Regions from separate parts of the Homo sapiens genome. Here region 2 is linked to region 1. The links come from fine-mapping of genetic effects on gene expression. A gene starts in region 1. The other region holds a variant in brackets. All regions are shown on one strand. Distances are between the middles of the regions.

Region 1 (4,533 bases):
CCACAGAGAGAAAAAACGATTTCGGAGTTTCTAAGAATCCCTGATTGAGAAGTCCAATAAAAGCTTCCTTGAATTTGCTATGGCTTTTTAAAAAAATGCTGGCCAGGCAGGGTGGCTCACGCCTATAATCCCAGCACTAAGGAAGGCCGAGGGGAGGGGGGCGCAGATCAACTGAGGTCGGGAGTTCGAGACCAGCCTGACCAACATGGAGAAACCCCGTCTCTACTAAAAATACAAAAATTAGCCGGGTGTGGTGGCACATGCCTGCAATCCCAGCTATTCGGGAGGCTGAGGCAGGAGAATCGCTTGAACCCGGGAGGCGGAGGTTGCAGTGAGCTGAGATGGCGCCACCGCACTCCAGCCTGGTCAACGAGAGCGAAACTCCATCTAAAAAAAATTGCTGGCTGGGCACGGTGGCTCACGCCTGTAATCCCAGCATTTTGGGAGGCCGAGGTGGGCGGATCACGAGGTCAGGAGTTCGAGACCAGCCTGACCAACACGGTGAAACGCCGTCTCTACTAAAAATACAAAAATTAGCTGGGCATGGTGGCCTGCGCCTGTAATCCCAGCTACCCAGGAGGCTGAGGCAGAAGACTCGCATGAACCCGGGAGGGGGAGGTTGCAGTGAGCGGAGATCGTGTCATTGCACTCCCGCCTGGGCGACAGAGTGAGACACTGTGTCAAAAAAAAGAAAAAGTGCTTAAGCTTGGTCAAGTCACTCTGAAGCTATCGGGAGAAAAATGAAGTGGCCCTAAGGAAAACATAGCCAATAAACCCAAGGAAACAAACTAGTTAACAGTTGTCACTACAGAAAGAATCCCCCACATAGAAGGCATTTGGACGATCAATATGCAGTGGAAGGCCGGGCGCGGTGGCTCACGCCTGTAATCCCAGCACTTTGGGAGGCTGAGGCGGGCGGATCGCGAGGTCAAGAGATCGAGACCATCCTGGCTAACACGGTGAAACTCCATCTCTACGAAAAATACAAAAAGTAGCCAGGTGTGGCGGGGCGCACCTGTAATAGAGCTACTCGGGAGGCTGAGGCTGCAGAATCACTTGAACCTGGGAGGCAGAGGTTGCAGTGAGCCGAGATGGCACCACTGCACTGCAGCCTGGGCGACCGAGCGAGACTCCGTCTCAAAACAACAACAACAAAACCCCAAAAAATGTTTCAATACGGTAAACAATTATGCATCTTGCAAAGGTTCTTGGGGGAAGGCAAGCAACATACTTAAAATATTAAGCCTTAACTTTTCCTGGATAGCCATTAAGAATCAAACAATTTGGAAAAATTCCTCTACACCTACTGAAGACTGTTTCAAATACTACGACTGAATCTTTCCAGCCTTTTAACACCACGCTGACAAGTCGGTTTAATAAAACGTAACTCTCCCCCAACCCCCGCCCGCCACAACTAATTAGCACTTTCAAAAAGTACTCGTTTTTCTGGTTACAGGGAAACCTCATGCTTCTCTAGTCCTGCAGGATGGTGAGGAAGGTTTGAGAAGAAATGGAGCGTCCGTGCTGGCCAATTACTGCACAGAAATAACACTTTTCCTTTTTGTCCAGGGGTGGGGGAAGAATCAAGTTTGAGGTCTCCACAGTTGATAACGCTACAACGATGACTAACGGGCTTCGGAACCACAGGCGATGCCGACCCTCCTCTGCTAGCCTTGCTCCCATCCCTCCCCCGATCCCTCCCCTAAAGGAAGCCTCGTGGCAATTCGGGTGATGAAACACCAAGCAACCGCCGGCCACGCACTCGGGACGCGCTCCTCGGCGGCGGCCCCGGCTCGTACCCACCCCCACCCGGTCCGCCCAGCCAGGGGGTGCACCGCCATAGAGGGTCCCAAGCCTGCACCCTCCCTGGCGTCGGGACTCCCCCGGGCCGGTCCGCCCCGGCCAACTTCCTCGAAGCCTCACGCGGACCAAACCTGGTCCCGGTCCCGCTGCCCCCGAGCCCCGAGTCACCTTCCCTATCACTCCATCCCGCCTCCCAGCCTGCACTCCAGATGGTCAGCCAGCGGAGCGGAGCGGCGCGGCACGCAGAGAGCTGGGAGAGCGGCCCTCGTCCTTGTCGCCGTAGTCCTCCGCCACGGCCGCAGCTACAACGCCAGAGACGGTGCTGGCCGGGACCGCGCGCCTCTAGTCGCTCTGCGTCCCCTGGCACCTTCTCTTGCGTGGCGCCGGGCAGGCAGGCAGGCAGGCAAGCAAGCAAGCAAGCAAGCGGGCGGGGTCGGCGCCCCAGGAAGGGAAAGAGCGCGAGGGCCGGCTAACGCCGCCGCCGCCGCCGCAGCCGCCGCCGCCGCTGAGTCAGCGCGAAGCGCGCTCCCCGCGTCGGTGCCGCGCGGGCGGGCGCCGGCGCCAGCAGTCTCTTGGAGAGTGCGGGCGGCAGCCCGCGGGCTGACGCCGGAGGCCTACAACTCCCAGCATGCAGGGAGCGGCCGGCGCTTCCGGGCGGCGAGGCGCACACGCGCTCCCTGGCGCTCGCCGGAAGGCGTGGTCACCGGGGCTTGAGGTGCATGCCGGGATGAGGCATCCGGCCCAGGAGTCCCTACCCAGCTCCTAAATCCCCGGCTGTGTCTGCGTGGTGTCAGAGCTCAAGCGTCAGGTTCGCCCCGAGCATTCCACAAAGGGCTTCTAGTAGTTGAGAGTACGGATTCACGAATCAGGATGACGTGGTTCTAACCACGTGTGAGTCAATTTAATTGCTTGTCTACGGCCCCAAGTGTCCCGAGTACAGCAGTGTAAAGCTCTGATGAGTGCTGACAGGTTTTCAAAATTAATTAATTAATTTATTTATTTATTCTTTGAGACGGAGTCTCGCTCTGTCGCCCAGGATGGGGTGCAATGGCGAGATCTTGGCTCACTGCAACCTCCGCCTCCGGGGTTCAAGCAGTTCTCCTGCATCAGCCTCCTGAGTAGCTGGGATGACAGGCGCGCGCCACCATACCCAGCTAATTTTTGTATTTTTCGTAGAGACAGGGTTGCACCATGTTGGACAGGCTGATCTCGAACTCCTGACCTCAAGTGATCACCTGCCTCGGCCTCCCAAAGTACTGGGATTACAGGCGTGAGCCACGGTGTCCGGTCCAAAATTTATTTTAAACAGACTAAAATTTTGTCCATGAAAAGAAGGAGAGCATTCTTAGGAAGTCCTACTCACGGGATCTTTCGATGCTACTAAATGTCACTTCATTTATTTGGTCACAGATTTATTAATTTATTAATGCAACATAGAGGCAGTGTAGGCTTAGGCTGCCTCGACTTGACTGCCACTCCGCCTCCTCACTAGTTGACCTCAGGCACTTTACTTTAGTCTATCCATGCTTCAGTTTACTCGTATGTAAAATGGGGATTGTTAATAGTACCGACCTCAAAGGGTTTCTGTGAGGTTTGAGTTAATACATGTGTTTGACACACAATGTGCTCAATATTTACATTTCATTGTTGATTATTCAATGTGTACTAAATACAGACTAGGTTGCTGCCACAGACTACAAACAAAACTTGGAGAGGGAGGAATGGTAAGAGCATAGAATAAAACTAATGTTTTAACAGCTACCTTTATTTAGCTGTCCAAGACACTACACCAGGCATTTCCTATATAAAATACCTTGAATCACTCTTGCATCATGTTTCTAATTTATGTGTTTAAAATGTCAGGCTAGTGGCTACAAGATGTCGCTAAAGGAGAACTGGGTTTTAATTTTTTCTTGTTTTTAGAGAAAGGGTCTCGCTCTGTTACCCAGTCTGGAGTAGAGTGGTCATAGCTCACTGCAGCCTTGACCTCCTGGGCTCAAGCAATCCTCCTGCCTCAGCCGCCCAAGGAGCTGGGACTACGGGTGCATACCATCATACCTGGCTATTTTTGTTTGTTTTTGTAGAGATGGGGACTTGCTCTGTTGCCCAGGCTGATCTCTAACTCCCAGGCTCAAATGAACCTCCCACCTCAGCTTCCCAAAGTGTTGGAATTACGAGTGTGAGTCCCTGTGTCAGGCCTTAATTTTCTTCACGCTGCTCTCAGTTGGCTTCCCAACGAAATAGGTTCTTTGTTGTTCTGGCATACAAATTTTCTTTTGATTGTAATCCTTGCATGCATTATGTTTCTACTATTCAAATTATTAATTATTCAAATTAATTATAAACAAGAAGTATCTCTTGTTTTACTTCTGAGAAAACCAAAGTCATGGTATTCTCAAGACTAGAGATAATTCAACAAAGCCTGTGAATCTCCCTCATTTGGAATCTCTCTGGGCCCAATCTGTTTTCCACTGCTAGGGCGCTGCTGCTAAAGCTATATCATATGAAACCACCCTCCCTAAAAGCTCAGGGACCATCTCCAAATAGGAGGGCGAGTGAAACTGTAAGAGCTGGATTGATGGGTGGAATCTGGAAGCTAAAGTAACTCCATCTTTGGTACTAATCTGCCATGTTGGTTTCTGATTAACCCTGTTCCCGGAAGGCCTTTAAGATTTCAAGTTGTGTGAGAGCACATACTGTAAATTCTGCCCTTACGTCAAAACAGCCTTG
Region 2 (4,000 bases), 78 kb before region 1:
CATGCAGCTGGGACTACAGGTGCAAGCCACCATGCCCCACTAATTTTTGTTTTATTTTTTTGTAGAGACAAGGTCTCACTATGTTGCCCAGGCTGGCTGTATTTTTCTAATGGCTAGTAAGAACGACAAGAAAAATCCCAACTTACTTTTTTCATATATTAATCCTATGGTATTCAGAGGTTCCCGGCTTACTACAAATATAGGGTTTTCCTCAGTAGTTTTAGGGAAATGTTGTGCCAGCCTTCCAGGTTCTAAGACTAAGCGTCGCCCTTCGTAGATAAGTTCTTGATTTGAAGAAATAATTTTGGTTTGTTTATATACCAGTTCATGAAATATAGTAGCACTGTGTGAGAAAAATTCAAAAGGACACTATAACTGGGGATAAAGTGAGAGGCAAAATATTTTAAATGAGTGCAACAACATCCATTTCTAATTCATATCCCTAATATCATAACCAGTCCATATAAACTTGCTTTGTTAATGTGGATACTACAAACTCCATTCCATATAACCTGTCCATACAGTAAGCAATTCTAAAGTATTTTTATGTTTGGATACCTGTGTAATATACAGGATTCTTAATATTTTCTTTCCTCTGTGTGTGTGTGTGTGTGTGTGTGTGTGTGTGTGTGTGTATGTGAGACAGAGTTTCGCTCTGTTGCCCAGGATGGAGTGCAGTGGCACGATCTTGACTCACTGCAGCCTCCGCCTCCTGGATTCAAGCGATTCTCGTGCCTCAGCCTCCTGAGTAGCTGGGATTACAAACATGCACCACCACACCCAGCTGATTTTTGTATTTTTAATAGAGACAGGGTTACGCCATGCTGGCCAGGCTGGTTTCGAACTCCTGGCCTCAAGTGATACACCTGCCTCGGCCTCCCAAAGTGCTGGGATTACAGGTGTGAGCCACTGTGCCTGGCCAAGATTATTAATATTTTCAAATAGAGAACCAACATAGCAGAGCGGTTTAGAGCACTGACTTGAATCAGATACATGGGTTCAAATCTCAGCTCTTCCACTAACTTCCTATAAAACCGTAAGTGACTTAACTCCTCTGCACTGTTTCCTCATCAGTAAAATGGAAATAATAACAGTACCCACTTCACAGAATTGTTGTGAGGATTAAATGGCTTAAATATGTAAAGAACCAAGAACAGCACTTGTTATGTGACTATATGTTTGTTAAATACATTAATAAAACTAGGTATTTTCAAAATGATGCTTCGGGGGAAAAGACAGCTTCCCCATGAATAGATCAATGACATCAAAAGAAATGTTTCAGCAGCAATATTGTAATTTGGCTCTACAAGCCTCCACTGTGTCACCTTTTGAAAATTTTTTGTTTTTAATTTTTGTGTGTACATAGGAAATGAATATATTTATGAGGTACATGAGATGTTTTGTTACAGACATGCAATACATAATAATCACACCATGGAGAATGGGGTATCCATCCAGTCAAGCATTTATCTTTTGTGTTACAGAAAATCAAATTATATTTTTTTAGCTATTTTAAAATGTACAATTAAGTTATTATTAACGATAATCACACTGGGTGAGCTTTTTACAAAACATTGACATCACTGTAGATTCACATGCAGTTCTAAGAAATGATGAAGAGAGACACCATATATTCTTCTCCCAGCTTCCCCCAATGGTGGCATCCTGCATATAGCAAAGCATCACAACCAGCTATTAACATTGATACACCCAACTTACTCAAATTTCCCCAGTTTTACATGCAAGTATATGTATGTGTACAGTCATGCATTGCTTAATGATGGGAATAGTTCTAAAAACTGCATCATTGTGTGAACATCACAGAGTATATTTACAGAAAACTACATGGTATAGCCTTCTACACACCTAGGCTATATAGGGTAGCTAGCCTACTGCTCCTAGGCTACGAACCTGTACAGCATGCTACTGTACTTAATACTGCAGGCAGCTGTAACATAATTAGAAACAGTATTTGTATATCTGAACATGTCTAAACATAGAAAAGGTACAGTAAAAATATGATATTATAATCTTACGGAACCAGTGTTGTATATATGGTCCATCATTGACCAAAACTTTATATGCAGTTTTATCACATGGGTAGTTTTTTTTAATCACATGGGTGTAATGTGTTTTTGTTTACATAAAACAAACACTGATTATTTTTCCGGAGCCAGGTGCTTTAACCATTATTATGGTTAATAGTAACCATATTATCTGCATAGGGTTATCATAGGCAAATAACCATGCTAACAATGAAGACTTAGGCTTTGATATTTTAACATGGCAGGATAGTACACTTAGCAAAACCTGGCTGGTTTATTGGTAGATGCCATTTGTGGTTATGTGATTATGTAACTTGAAAGAAGGCACAGCAATGAAA[G/A]TACTTTTGTAAAACTTACAGTTTAAGAAACAAGCTAATTTAACTATAAATTTTAGAATTATCAATCCTTTTACTCCAAAAATAAGTGAAAAGGAATTTACTAAGCACTTAAATATAATTTTCCATGTGGGAAATGGGTACTTTTGGTGAAGCTGAGGCATCTTTTCTATTTCTTTTCCTAACTTAGGAAAATATTATATAACAGAACATGTTGATACAAGAAGAAAATAGAGATACTTACGTATTATAGCTATGAATATAAATCTTATGAGCTGTCATTTGTTGTAGCGAAAAAACATGAATTACCATTCGGTGAAGTATATCACTAGTTTCTGCAAAAAACTGGTCAAAACCCCAACACTTTTCCTGATCTGCTTCAAGGATGTTTGCAAGAACAGGGGTAAGTAGAACCTGAAGACCCCTAAAATAGTATTGAAAAGTTACTTGAAGAGTGAATATATCATATTCTGTCTAGGTTAAAAAATCATAGTATTTACCAGCAAATCAAAGGAACTGTCATTATTACTATATTAGATTAATTTAAAAAATTTAAAATCTGTCAACTTTTCAGAAAGCTAGGTAACCTTCATTTAATGCCACTCATCAATGAATAAGGAATTATAGCTTTTTTTCTTCTAGAAATGGGGTCTTGTTATGTTGCCCAGGCTGAAGTGCAGCAGCTATTCACAGATGCTTTATGCATTGCAGTCTCAAACTCTGGGGCTCAAGTATCCTGTCTCAGCTTCCTGAGCAGGTGGGATTATAGGTGTATGCCACCGTGCCAAGACCCATTACATTTCTGGTAGTTGTTTTCACGGCTGATTTGTAGTACTTAGAGTTCTTACTATTTAAAACAAAAAAATTATATAATATACTTTCTGGCATCTAAGCAATTTTTCTCAAAGAATTTGTAACTTGGTATGCTAAAGACTGATTCGATAGATAATGCCTGTTACCCTCCAGAAATATGCTGCAGTTCAGATCATCAGATTTTTTTGATTCTGAGTTTTGGCAATATAATTATTTACCAGCAAGTGTTCATTTTCTGAGCCCTTTACACTTTATCAGTTTTGCCTGAGATCCCCAAAATGAGTATTTCCTAAATAAAAATTTAACACAAATCACAGTTATAATATTAAATTTCTACTCTCCAACACAATGAATTTCTCTTAGTAATCTAGTTACATGACGATTTCATTTTGGAAACTTTTTAAAATAACACACACAAAAAACTGTTAACAATAGTGGTTTTTGAAAATGATTTCAGCATTGGAACTCTTGGTTTAAATGAATTTTCACAGAACCCAACATATAAAATGATAAGTGATATTTTATTAGCTTGTTTTATATATTTATTTATTTAAAGTCATACAAAAAGCACCCACAACTTAAAAAAGGTGATAAGCCACTAATTCATAACTTGTGTCCAATTAAGGATTATATAACTACCACACTCAAGAAAAATGGAAGCTAATTCAGTAATCACAGATACTAAATACCGATGCATGTCTTGGCTTTGTTTCCAGAGTGAAATACAAAATAATTTACTTTCTACTTTTAATTTCTTTTACCTTAATTCTTTCTTTGTGGTAACAGGATTCTTAAATGACAATATAA

What was found. PIP is the estimated chance that this variant, and not a neighbour inherited with it, causes the effect. A credible set is the group of variants that fine-mapping cannot tell apart.
Region 2: its variant is the best candidate, but not a certain one, in a credible set for the expression of XPOT in whole blood (INTERVAL, PIP 0.81).

What each region holds. Positions count from the first base shown.
Region 1 is chr12:64,402,243-64,406,775 of GRCh38, reverse strand. XPOT (exportin for tRNA) reads right to left here and starts at 2,384. Exons shown (of 25, transcript NM_007235.6): 1 at 1,972-2,384. RefSeq lists enhancers at 786-1,662, 2,760-2,809 and silencers at 1,770-1,879, 2,210-2,369.
Region 2 is chr12:64,480,646-64,484,645 of GRCh38, reverse strand. TBK1 (TANK binding kinase 1) reads right to left here. Exons shown (of 21, transcript NM_013254.4): 8 at 2,625-2,804; 9 at 147-343. Among named protein-coding and RNA genes, the nearest start is that of TBK1, 31 kb to the right of the region's middle. The variant G/A (reference allele first, on the strand shown) is at 2,384.